Linked DNA regions of Homo sapiens: region 1 is linked to region 2. The links come from fine-mapping of genetic effects on gene expression. A gene starts in region 2. The other region holds a variant in brackets. All regions are shown on one strand. Distances are between the middles of the regions. Region 1 has its middle 28 kb from the start of GCOM1. Region 2 holds the start of GCOM1 (GCOM1, MYZAP-POLR2M combined locus).

Region 1 (5,377 bases), 28 kb before region 2:
AGAAATCTGATGATCCATTTCACACATCCCTGGGTGCAAATTACTACCTAGTCTACACTAGTGTTTCTCAAACTTCAGTGTGCATCAGAATAACCTTGAGGGCTTGTGAAAACATAGACTGCTGGCCCCACTCCCAGAGTTTCTAGGGCAGCCAAGAATTTGATGCCAATGCTGCTGGTCTGGGGACCACACTGAGAACCTCTGGGTTTAAACATCCTACCTGACCTTTCTCAGTATATCCACTGGGTGGCAGCAGAGAGCATCACAGGCACTGCACAGTGGTCAAACCTGGAAAGCCCGGGCAGAGGCTGTGGAGGACTATTTCTGTGTATTCAATGTAGGTTATTTTTGCTGCCAAATGACAATACAAACCATCCACAATATCAGGCTCTTCAAAATTCAAGGATGCGTTGTATAAGAGAATGATTGGTGACTTGGATCTTGTTCCTTTTCCAGGATGTCGTCACCACCAGACCCAGTCGAGACATCCTCTCTCTACCAGGCGCCCCCAACAAGTCCTTCCTTCAAAAAGAGAATAGTTTTTAATAACTTTCAAGGTCACCTGCAAAAGGGTTTCTGTTTGAGTAATGTAATGACTGTAAAGCTGGCAAAAAACTGTATCGCCAGCTGATAGCTTGAGTCAGACTGGAAAATTACGAGCAAATTTTTCCATGAACCAAGAGGAAGTGTCCAGTCATTGTTGAGAGCAGGTTCATAGCTGTGTACGAGCTCTAGGAGATGGGGAGGCCCGTGCAGACCTACTTCCTTCAAGAAGGGAAGACAAAAGAAACACGTTTTGAGTTTGGGTTTTTAGATGGTTGGGAAGTTTATGTTATAGGATTTTTTTTTGAGGGGGGGGTTTGTTTGTTGATTTTTGTTTTTAAGTTATGAGAGTTATTTTCTTTTTCTTCCTTTTTTTTTTTTTTAGAAGGAGTTTCACTCTTGTTGCCCAGGCTGGAGTGCAATGGTGCGATGTCGGCTCACCACAACTTCCACCTGCCAGGTTCAAGTGATACTCCTGCCTCAGCCTCCTGAGTAGCTGGGATTAGAGGCATGCGACACCATGCCTGGCTAATTTTATATTTTTTGGTAGAGACGGGGTTTCTCCATGTTGGTCAGGCTGGTCTCGAACTCCTGATCTCAAGTGATCCACCCACCTAGGCCTCCCAAAGTGCTGGGATTACAGGCGTGAGCCACCGCGCCCGGCTCTGAGAGTTATTTTCTACTAACCAATGATGTACTGCTAGATTTTGGAATAAAAGGTTCTATGTGTGTGGGGAGGGGAGGAAGGAGCAGAATCAAAAAGCCCTGAGCAATGATAGGATGGATTAGAGTTTGGAAAGGGAAACGTGGGGTCCAGAACACACTGGTTAGGCTGTGGCAAGGGGGTCCTCTTGACATCCTCTAACCAGATCTCACAGCACACTTCCTGCCATGTCGCAGCAGAGACCAGCCCTCACCAGACCCGGTGCTGACATTAACCAGGTGCTGCCCTGAGCGAGATGGCGTCCTGCCACGCCTGCTCCGTCATCTGGGAGATGCCTTGTCGGCAGCTCCAAGGCCTCCTGTGGGAAGGCATGAACGTCTGTCCTCACGTCCCTGCTTCCCTTATTACCCAGCGGTGGAAGTTCATCCCCCACTCTCCTATCTTCCTGAATTCATCCCATCCTTTGTTGGCCCTGTGTGTGGTTTCTTCCTGTACTCTCTTTTGTGGATTTTTGTAGAATTTCAGAAGTGATTGTGATATTAGATGTGATCATCTCTGCTCTGCCTGCTGCTGGGGATGTGTGGCACTGACCCACTCTCCCCATTTTCCTCATTGTGGCTCTATAGTCAAAAAGGCTCTTAGGCCCCTTCTAAGTTCTTTCTTCTCCAGGCTAACATCCTTTTCTTCTTTAAGTCCATTTTTAACATTGGTTGTGAGTTAACTCCTGACCTCTCCCCCTCTGTCTAGTCCATGCTGGTCACTCCCTCCTTGCTCTAAAAGTGAAGGTGCTGGTGGGAGCAGGACCTTCTGGCTATCCCCAGGCAGGCCCGTGCCTCCCTCGAGGCTTTGACATTGTGATGTGTGTGTCTCTTCACACCAGGGTGGGAGCCCCTTGAGGGAAAGAACCACGCCTTTCTCTCTCGGGAGAAAGCCCCTGTCAGACAGCAGGCATTTGAAATTAAACAGAACATTATAATTCTGGGTCCTAACCTTTATAAATGCAAGGCAAGACTAGATTATGTTAGCGGATTTGTCAATATTCATTTGGTTCAGTCTTATTGCACAGATAGGCAATTAAAGCATTTTAAATGGGCTGTGCTTAAGTGTGGTCCCCCTCTCATGTACTCCTATAGCAGGCTTTAAAACACTGCATTGCGCTTAAAGATCTGCTTCTTGGATTTGGGCTGTTGAGCTCTTTTCCTTCTTCCACATCATTCCCTCAACTTCTCAAGAAGTTGTCAACTTGAGATGCTGACACATTCTGCAAGTGCACAGGGACACAGCCCTAAGAGTGATCAGCTACCCCCAGTGCCCATCAGTGGTTCAGTGAAGGACGGCATCCCTGCTTAGAATTTGACCATTCAGTCTGCCGGTTACCAAAACCATGTTCATGCTTTAGTGTAAAGGTTTAGCATCAAGGTTACGTCCCAGGTGATGCTTCAAATCCAAACTTCCCCCTTCCCTGGGCTCCTGTGGTCTTTTGTTCTCTTGCAGCGCTTCCGGACTGTGGTTAGCTGATTATAGTTATTTTTTCCTACATCATTAGGTGGTGAGCTTCTCCGGG[A/G]CAAAGTCTGTCTCATTATTCATCTTTGTTTGTAGCAGGTGCCTGACAAATACTGATAGAATTAAAATAACTTTTGTTTGTCTCACATTTTGATAAATGAACAGGGCTATATTTACCTGAACGTTTATGATTTCATACATGGACAGCATATTTCCTCTTGGGCTTTTCTCTTCCTAGACTGGATAGATTTAATGATTTTAGTTTTATGTCACAGGACAACCCTCCACCTGGAAGAACTGAAGTTCTATTAAGTTTAGGGGTTTCTGGCTAATTTGTAAATTGTTGAGAAAGAATCCACCTTGTTCTGGTCAAAAGGTGACAAATATAGTTAACTTCAACAAAGGGCAGAGAGTCAGCTATTGTTTCTGCCAATGATTACTTTTGTTATATGCTTGAGATCAGATACTAGTCATTTGTATCCCAGTTAACTTAATATAGATAGCATTTTCTAATATTTTCAAGCGTTACTCTAATGCTTTTTGACGCCTATTTTGAACATCAATCTTTTAAACTCATTATATATTATTCTATAATTTATAGAAAAATCATCACACTTTACCTAATTCTTGTTTGTTTGTTTGTTTGTTTTGAGACAGAGTCTCGCTCTGTCACCCAGGCTGGAGTGCAATGGCGCGATCTCGGATCACTGCAAGCTCCGCCTCCGGGGTTCATGCCATTCTCCTGCCTCAGCCTCCCGAGTATCTGGGAATACAGGTGCCCGCCACCACGCCCAGCTAATTTTTTTGTATTTTTCGTAGAGACGGGGTTTCACCGTGTTAGCCAGGATGGTCTCGATCTCTTGACCTCCTGATCCGCCTGCCTCGGCCTCCCAAAGTGCTGGGATTACAGGCGTGAGCCACCGCGCCTGGCACTTTACCTAATTCTTATAGGCAATATTTTCTTTGGTACTTGGGACTTTTTTTAAAGAATAGTATCCTCAAATTGGAATTAGTGTGTCAAATAATATGAATGCTTTTCTGATTCAATTGGATTTTTAATTTTTATACTTACTCAAATAATTTATACTGACTGTTGAAAAATAGATAAGCAATTAATAATAAAGAAAGTCCCCCTTGCTTTCACTATTTAGAAATAACTACTATAAATATTTTTATGTATATTTGTGTACACTTTTTTCTTTACATGGATGTTTATTTCACAAAATGTGGAATCTTACTGTTTATGCTATTACATAGCTTATTTTTTTAAATTATTGTGAATTTTTTCAGCTATAAAAAGATATTTTCTCAAAAATTTTTTTCAAAAGAATATATTTTTTCAACACAGTTTTAATAATTGCACTGTATTCCATGGAATAATAATACTAATAGTTAACATTTGTTTTGTAATTTTTATATGCTATGCAATATTCTATTTGTTTTATATACCTAAGCTCATTTAATCATCACAATAACCCTGTGAGATAGGTACTATTACTCTATTTTAGCAAAAAAAATTATGCATAGAAATATTAAATGACTTGCCTAGTTATGGGCATACCATAAATGTGCATGACCCAGTAGGTCATTGTAGAACATTTTAGTTATTTATTTTTTGTTTGCCATCATAAGAAATGTTGCTATTAATTCATGAAACAAATATTCACTGAGCTCCCACTCTATGCTGGGTGTTTTGCTAGAAGCTTCGTATGTAAGGGAAAAACTGTTGCAGAAAGTAGGCTTGGCTGGGAAAGAGACCTATTTGAAAGGATCCTGGCATGAGATGGCGTTTTCTCTCTTCTGTTTGCTCACATCGCGGAGGGGAACTCCATACTGCAACAGCAGCCCCTGGCTGGATGTGGTTTTGTCTCTTTCGTCAGCAGGGATATCTCCCGCCCCACTTCCTTGCTCTCTCAGGAAGGCCCCCTCGTGCTCCGCACACCTGCCAGGGTGGGGCTTGTGGAGTTGACCTTCTTCCTTCCTGAATCAGACAACCAAACCAGAGGTGTAACTTCGGTGGCTGGTCCTGTACCTCTGATTCTGTTCTGTGTTCTAAGCAGAGTTTTCACGAACAATGAAAACGCCTGGGAGTGTTCATTGCCAGTTATTAAAGAAAAATGGAATTGGCTACTGTACGGTGTAATAGTCCCCAGGTTATTCCACCCTTTCTGGCAGACTATTTACTCATGTACTTTTAGTATACTGAGGGAAGGCTAAGAGATCTCTGGCCAGTGGGTAGGAAAGAATAAAAAGTCTTTGAGTTTTCAGGTATTTTCTTTTAGTAGTAGCTTCCAGCAAGGCACAGTGGCTCACGCCTGTAATCCGAGCACTTTAGGAGGTCTAGGCATGTGGATCACTTGAGGGCAGAGTTTGAGACCAGCCTGACCAACATGGCAAAACCCTGTTTCTTCTAAAAATACAAAAATTAGCCAGGCATGGTGGCACGCACCTGTAATCCCAGCTACTCAGGAGGCTGAGGCAGGAGAATTGTTTGAACCCGGGAGGCAGAGGTTGCAGTGAGCTGAGATCATGCCACTGCACTCCAGGCTGGTGACAGCAAGACTCCATCTCAACAACAATAAAAAACCTTTATTAACATAATTTACATACCATATTATTCACTCTTTTAAAGTGTAGAATACATGGGCTTTGAATACGTTCACAGAG
Region 2 (5,377 bases):
TCATCTACTGTGTGCTCTTGTCCAGTGATTTAACTCTTGATCATTTGTGCAAGAAATAATGAGTCATTGCTGCTCAGGACTTTGCTGGAGAAAAGGGTCCTATCATAAGCCTCTCAACTAAAGATGCCAATGGAATTTGGAAAGAGTTTAGCAGAAAGCAACAAAGACAATTCAGAAGCAGAGACCTAGAGGATATGAAAGATAATTCTAGGAACTGGGATGGGAGAAGGAGGTAAAATTCAGTAACTGATTACAAGAAAATGAAGGGTGCTTATACAGACATCTGGAATTTTCTACACACCTGTGCTTTAGCAGAGAAATTCAGGACTGCTCTTAGGCCTATGTGGCTATTTCTGTGGATAGAAAAGGATGACAGCTAAGACAGTTTTGTCATAGCTCCCGTTCTCTCCAGCCCAAACACTAGCAACCCCTTCATCACCAATGCTCAGAGGGTCTGGAGTAGATGAGTCATGTTGCAAGGGAATGTGGAGAACTTCTACACCAGACCCTTATCCCTGTTCCCCTCCCATTGGCCCTCTTCCCCACTCTCAGTTCTGTAGACTCCAGAGGACTGCTGACTGGGCAGAAGTTCTCAGCTTTTGATTCCTCTTTTGAAAAGAGTCCATCTTTTTTTAAAAATCATCTTCTCTCAGAAATATTAATGGAAACCAGTGACTGTGACTTCATTTTTTACTTTTTCCTCTCCACTCTAGATCCACTTTTCCATTGATTTCAGTCCTACTTGTCTTCCCATTTTCCTTCTTTCCCACTTTCTGGGCTCCCCACTCTCCTCTCTCTTGCAGTTCCTTATGACCTCAGATTCCTAGTGCTGGCCTATTAGGGAGGAGCTGTGGCATAAGCCAGGGCCTGGCATCTGCCTGGACACACCACCCACAGCCCTTGGCGATTGTCAGCCAGCTTTGGGGAAATGGCCTGGCTGGGACAACCCTGGGGCTCTTGTTGCTTCAGCTGCCAAATTGCTTGGAGTCCCTGGCCCACCCTAGGAGCTGGGTTGGCAAGGATCTTAGTTTCTGTTTTTCATGACCATGAGTGAGTTGAAATCTTACTCTGTAATAACATTTCTTCATTCTTTCCACATTTACTTGCACTACCACACGTCAATTACCTGCTCTAGATATTGGACAGGCAGAGATGTAAACAAGATCCAGCTTCTACACAGAGCTCACAAGCTAGTGAGCTGTCTGCTGCTTTTGTAAAGAAATATAACACCGTGTGAATAGGATGTTAACAATATGAAAAAGACTTGGGTAGATTAGAGGGCTTCGTGGAAGTGGAATGGGAAGGAACCTGTCATGAACAATTTTCTTTTTGGAAGGGATAGGTGGATGGGAGGATGCAGAGAGGAGTGTAGCAGAAAAGCAGAAGGACTTGGGTTAGAAGACTAGATGTGTAGTCTCAGCTGTTCACCAATTAACCTAATGTCTCTGGCCTCAGTTTCCTCATTTGCAAAACAGGGGCGATAACTGTAGCCCACCTTGTGGGGCATTGTGAGAATTGGTTGAGAAAATGCATATAAAGCACTTAGGACACAAGCACAGCTACTGTGAGGATGACGATGAGGATGGTGAAGAACAGGCTGTGCAACTTTGGGAAAGTCACTTGTATACACCGGCCTCAGTTTCCTCATCTACAAAAGGAGTGAGTTCCACAGGATCATCTGTAATTCTGTTTAGCAACATTTTTTTTTCAGCATCTTCCCTGTTGGTGCCATTGGGCATTCAGAGAGGGTCAAGGCCTGGCCTCTGCCCTCCAGAAGGACAGGGTACAGGCACACACATAGATAACTCTAACAGAAGACAGGGTCCCGCGGAGCTGCTAAGTTCCTGAGCATGCGTGTTTGGGGAAGGGGTTTCTGGAGAGCTCCGTGGGGAGGCAGTGCTTGACCTGGGCTTTGAAGACAGAGATTGTGTCTTTCCCTGCTGAAAAACACTTTGTCCTCAAGATAAAGGCCAAATTTCCAGCTAAGCACACAGGTTCCTCATGATGTCCTCAGCTCCCTTCCGCTGCTTCTCCACTGTTTTCCCACTGCACTGTGATACTTCCAATTCTTGAAACATATTTTATACCTTCCCTTGCTTTCCTTCCATCTTTGTGCATGCTAGTTCTTTTGACCTGGGACTCCCTCCTCCCTCTGTTAGGGGACAGCAGAGGGGACAAGCAAGGCACTAGGGTCGGACTGGGGGATTCATATCCTACCTTTGCCACTGAGAGGCCAGTGGGTCGCCTGCTGTGTTGCTCAATCCCTAGGTGAGTCAGCGTCTTCATCTGCAAAATGGGGATACAAGGTAACAACAGTGACTCCCTCAAAGGGCAATGGTGAGGATTAAATGAGGTAACACACGCAAAGTGCTCGCCAGGCAGGCCCACAGTAATCATTGAATAAATATGGGCAGTGTGGCCCACTCCTACTTGCATTTCAGGTCTTAGCTTAGTCATCACCTCCTCTGAGGTTGGCTGTGTGCTCCCTTAGTACATGGTATCTCCTCTTCTACCACAGCCCGGCACCTGTCATCCCCACCACACTGCAAACTCTCCGAGGCCAACAGCCAGTCGACTGGGTTGGCTGCTGGTGGGGACGCATAATAGGCATTCAGGAAATACTGAATGAATGACATGGGGTGAGGGTCCCAGTGATACGAGGGCGTGCAGAGGCTGTAGGGGGCAGTCCGGGGTGGGGGTAGGTCGTGAGACTGAATGGGCAGGTGGATCTCAACTCTGCGGGGGACAGAGAGAGCATGGGCGTCCAGGCTGTCCAGGGCTCCTTCTTGCCCTGGGACTGACCCTGGGAGGGCGCAGCGCCCTGGGAGAGGATGGTGCTCAACTTTAACCGGGTCGGCGCCCTCGGGAGAAAATGCAGCCTGACGGGTCGGGTGAGCGCGCTCGGCCCCGCCCCGGCCCGGCCCGGCCCCGCCCCCGGCCCCACCCCCGGGCCTTCGCGGTGCAGCTGAGGCTGCAAGTAGCCGGCGCCGTCCCGCGTCGCCCCCGCGCAGGGCGGGCCCCGCACGCTTATTCTGCCCGGGAGGAACGCCGGCGTCCAGCCCGCTACCGACCGCCGCTGCGGGATGCTGCGCTCCACGTCCACGGTCACCCTGCTCTCGGGCGGCGCCGCCAGGACGCCCGGGGCGCCCAGCAGGAGGGTGAGTAGCGGGGGCGGGAGCCGCCGCCGTCCCGTTCCCCCATCCCGGCCGCCCCCTCTAGAGGGGACTAGGGATGGGAAAGCTCGGGAGCCAGCACCTGGCCCCGACGCCCCACCCTGGGCTCAACTCCCCGGTCCTGTGCCGGCTCTGGCAGTGACCCTCCCGCTTGAGGTTTCAGGGGGCCCACCAGCTGGTAGGAGAGGGCTTAGGGGACTTTATGGAATTCCCAGAGATTTCCTCTCCTTCCTGCCTTTCTGTCAAGCCGAGTTTATTGGCGGCACCAGTTTAAAAATGAAGGAAGACATTTGTGCAGTGTCCCTACCTTGAGACTCAAAAGTAATGAATGTATTTAAAACTCAAACTTTCCTTCTTCCATTAATTAAAAGAAAGATGGGGTCACTTGTGTCCACTAGTGATAGGGTATCCACTAGTGATAGGGTAATTCTGGAGTGGGGTTAGCCAAGGTGGGCAAACCAGAACAGCAGCCGGCCGCCCAGGAGCCCGACTGTGTGGGACTCCGGTTTATGTAAACCACTTTCTTCTGTCTGATTTAAATATTAGCACAGTGACAACAATGGCAGCACTGAAAGCTTGGGACAGCATCTCCAGGGAAGGTTTCCCTTTGGAAGTGCTGTTTCTTTTTGATCTTTGTGGCATCTTTTCCCATCTCTCCAGATGCTCTGTAAAAGAAATGCTCCATCTTTCTAACACGGTCAGCACCTTAGAGCCACAGCCAGGGGCTTGGCTTGTGGCTTTTTAGTTCTTCCATTTATCATGATGTTCAATACTTATCATTTGGTACCTCTTTGCTCTGATTGAGACTTCTGTAATCGTGTTTCCTCAAGATTTAAACAGGTGGTTAAGTCCAAAGCAAAACCCCCACTGGTTCTGTCTGCGTGCAGGCTTGGACCTGCTTATTTGCTTTTACATGCCTTAAGCGAGTGATGGTGGTCACCTTATAAGCTGTCTTTCTTAGCTCTAGAAGAAAGGTGTGTTACTCTTGGGCATGGGCCAACTGATGGATTCTGGGGTGTGTGTGTGCGTGCACTCACCAGACACTTAGGTTGTGTACACAGGCGCACACACACACACACACACACACACACCCCAGAATCCATCAGTTGGCTCATGCCCAAGGTTGACAGAACTCCAGTTGTCCAATCATTAGCATCATAGAGTAAGATCTACATTGGGTCCAAGGGGGTTTCCAACCACAGTCCTGGCCTTACTCTAAGTTGGGTGTTTGTATTTTTCTATGGAAATCTTTCTCAATTTGAACACAATTGCAACTGAGAAAGAATGAAGTCACTGAAAAGCTAACCCTGAGCCCTGAGAGGATCATATGTGTGACCAGACTGCATGAATTGCATGAAATTCTCTGTAACTTCCCTTCCAGAGGTGGGGATTAGTTGGGGTACCTAACCTAATACGGTGGGTTGATACAAATGTGACTAGTATACAAATAACATTTCTGAAGATTTTGGGTCAAACGTTTCCTTTGGAATATTTATTTAATTATAGGTGCTTTGCTGTCGGACACATTGTGACACTCTTGAAAAGACTTTGCCTTTTGAATAAGATGGCAGACGTATTTTGGACTGGAGAACTCAGGGCTCGGGATCAGGCCATTCAGGGCTGTCCTGGGTACACTGGTACTTGTTTCTGGAAGGAAGGTATCTAAAGGGTCTAGGGTTCTGCCCATCTTTATGGTTTCTAGCTCTGCTCATGATTTGCAGATGTTACAAGTACTATCTGTGTGTGTGCTGGGGATTGTGTGTGTGGTGGGAAGCTGTGAGATGTTGATTAATTGATTTATTGAACATTCATAAACCTTTCTCTGTGTGGTAAAGGGCTGGCATTGGGGTCCGCCCTACCTGTAGAGGCAGACATTTTCCCAAACTAACATCAAACAAAGTGGTGATGGTTATAGTGGGGTGAAGAGTTTACAAAGTTCTGTAGAAGCTAAAATAAAGGTTCTTCCTGAGGCATCAGGGGAAGGCCTCTCACTAAAGGTATGTTTTTTTGAGATGGAGTCTCACTTTGTCATCCAGGCTGGAGTGCCATGGCACGATCTCGGCTCACTGCAGCCTCCACCTCCCAGGTTCAAGCAGTCCTCCTGCCTCAGCCTTCCGAGTAGCTGGGACTACAGGCGCACACCACCATGCTTGGCTAATTTTTGTATTTTTAGTGGAGACAGGGTTTTGTCATCTTGGCCAGCC

The links.
Region 1: its variant is fine-mapped to the expression of GCOM1 in T cells (TOPMed, PIP 0.97).

Annotation. Positions count from the first base shown.
Region 1 is chr15:57,560,924-57,566,300 of GRCh38, forward strand. No RefSeq gene overlaps it. Among named protein-coding and RNA genes, the nearest start is that of GCOM1, 28 kb to the right of the region's middle. The variant A/G (reference allele first, on the strand shown) is at 2,772.
Region 2 is chr15:57,588,952-57,594,328 of GRCh38, forward strand. GCOM1 (GCOM1, MYZAP-POLR2M combined locus) reads left to right here and starts at 2,953. Exons shown (of 17, transcript NR_104371.3): 1 at 2,953-3,158. MYZAP (myocardial zonula adherens protein) reads left to right here and starts at 2,953. Exons shown (of 13, transcript NM_001018100.5): 1 at 2,953-3,158. The coding sequence starts at 3,084. RefSeq lists a silencer at 2,842-2,951.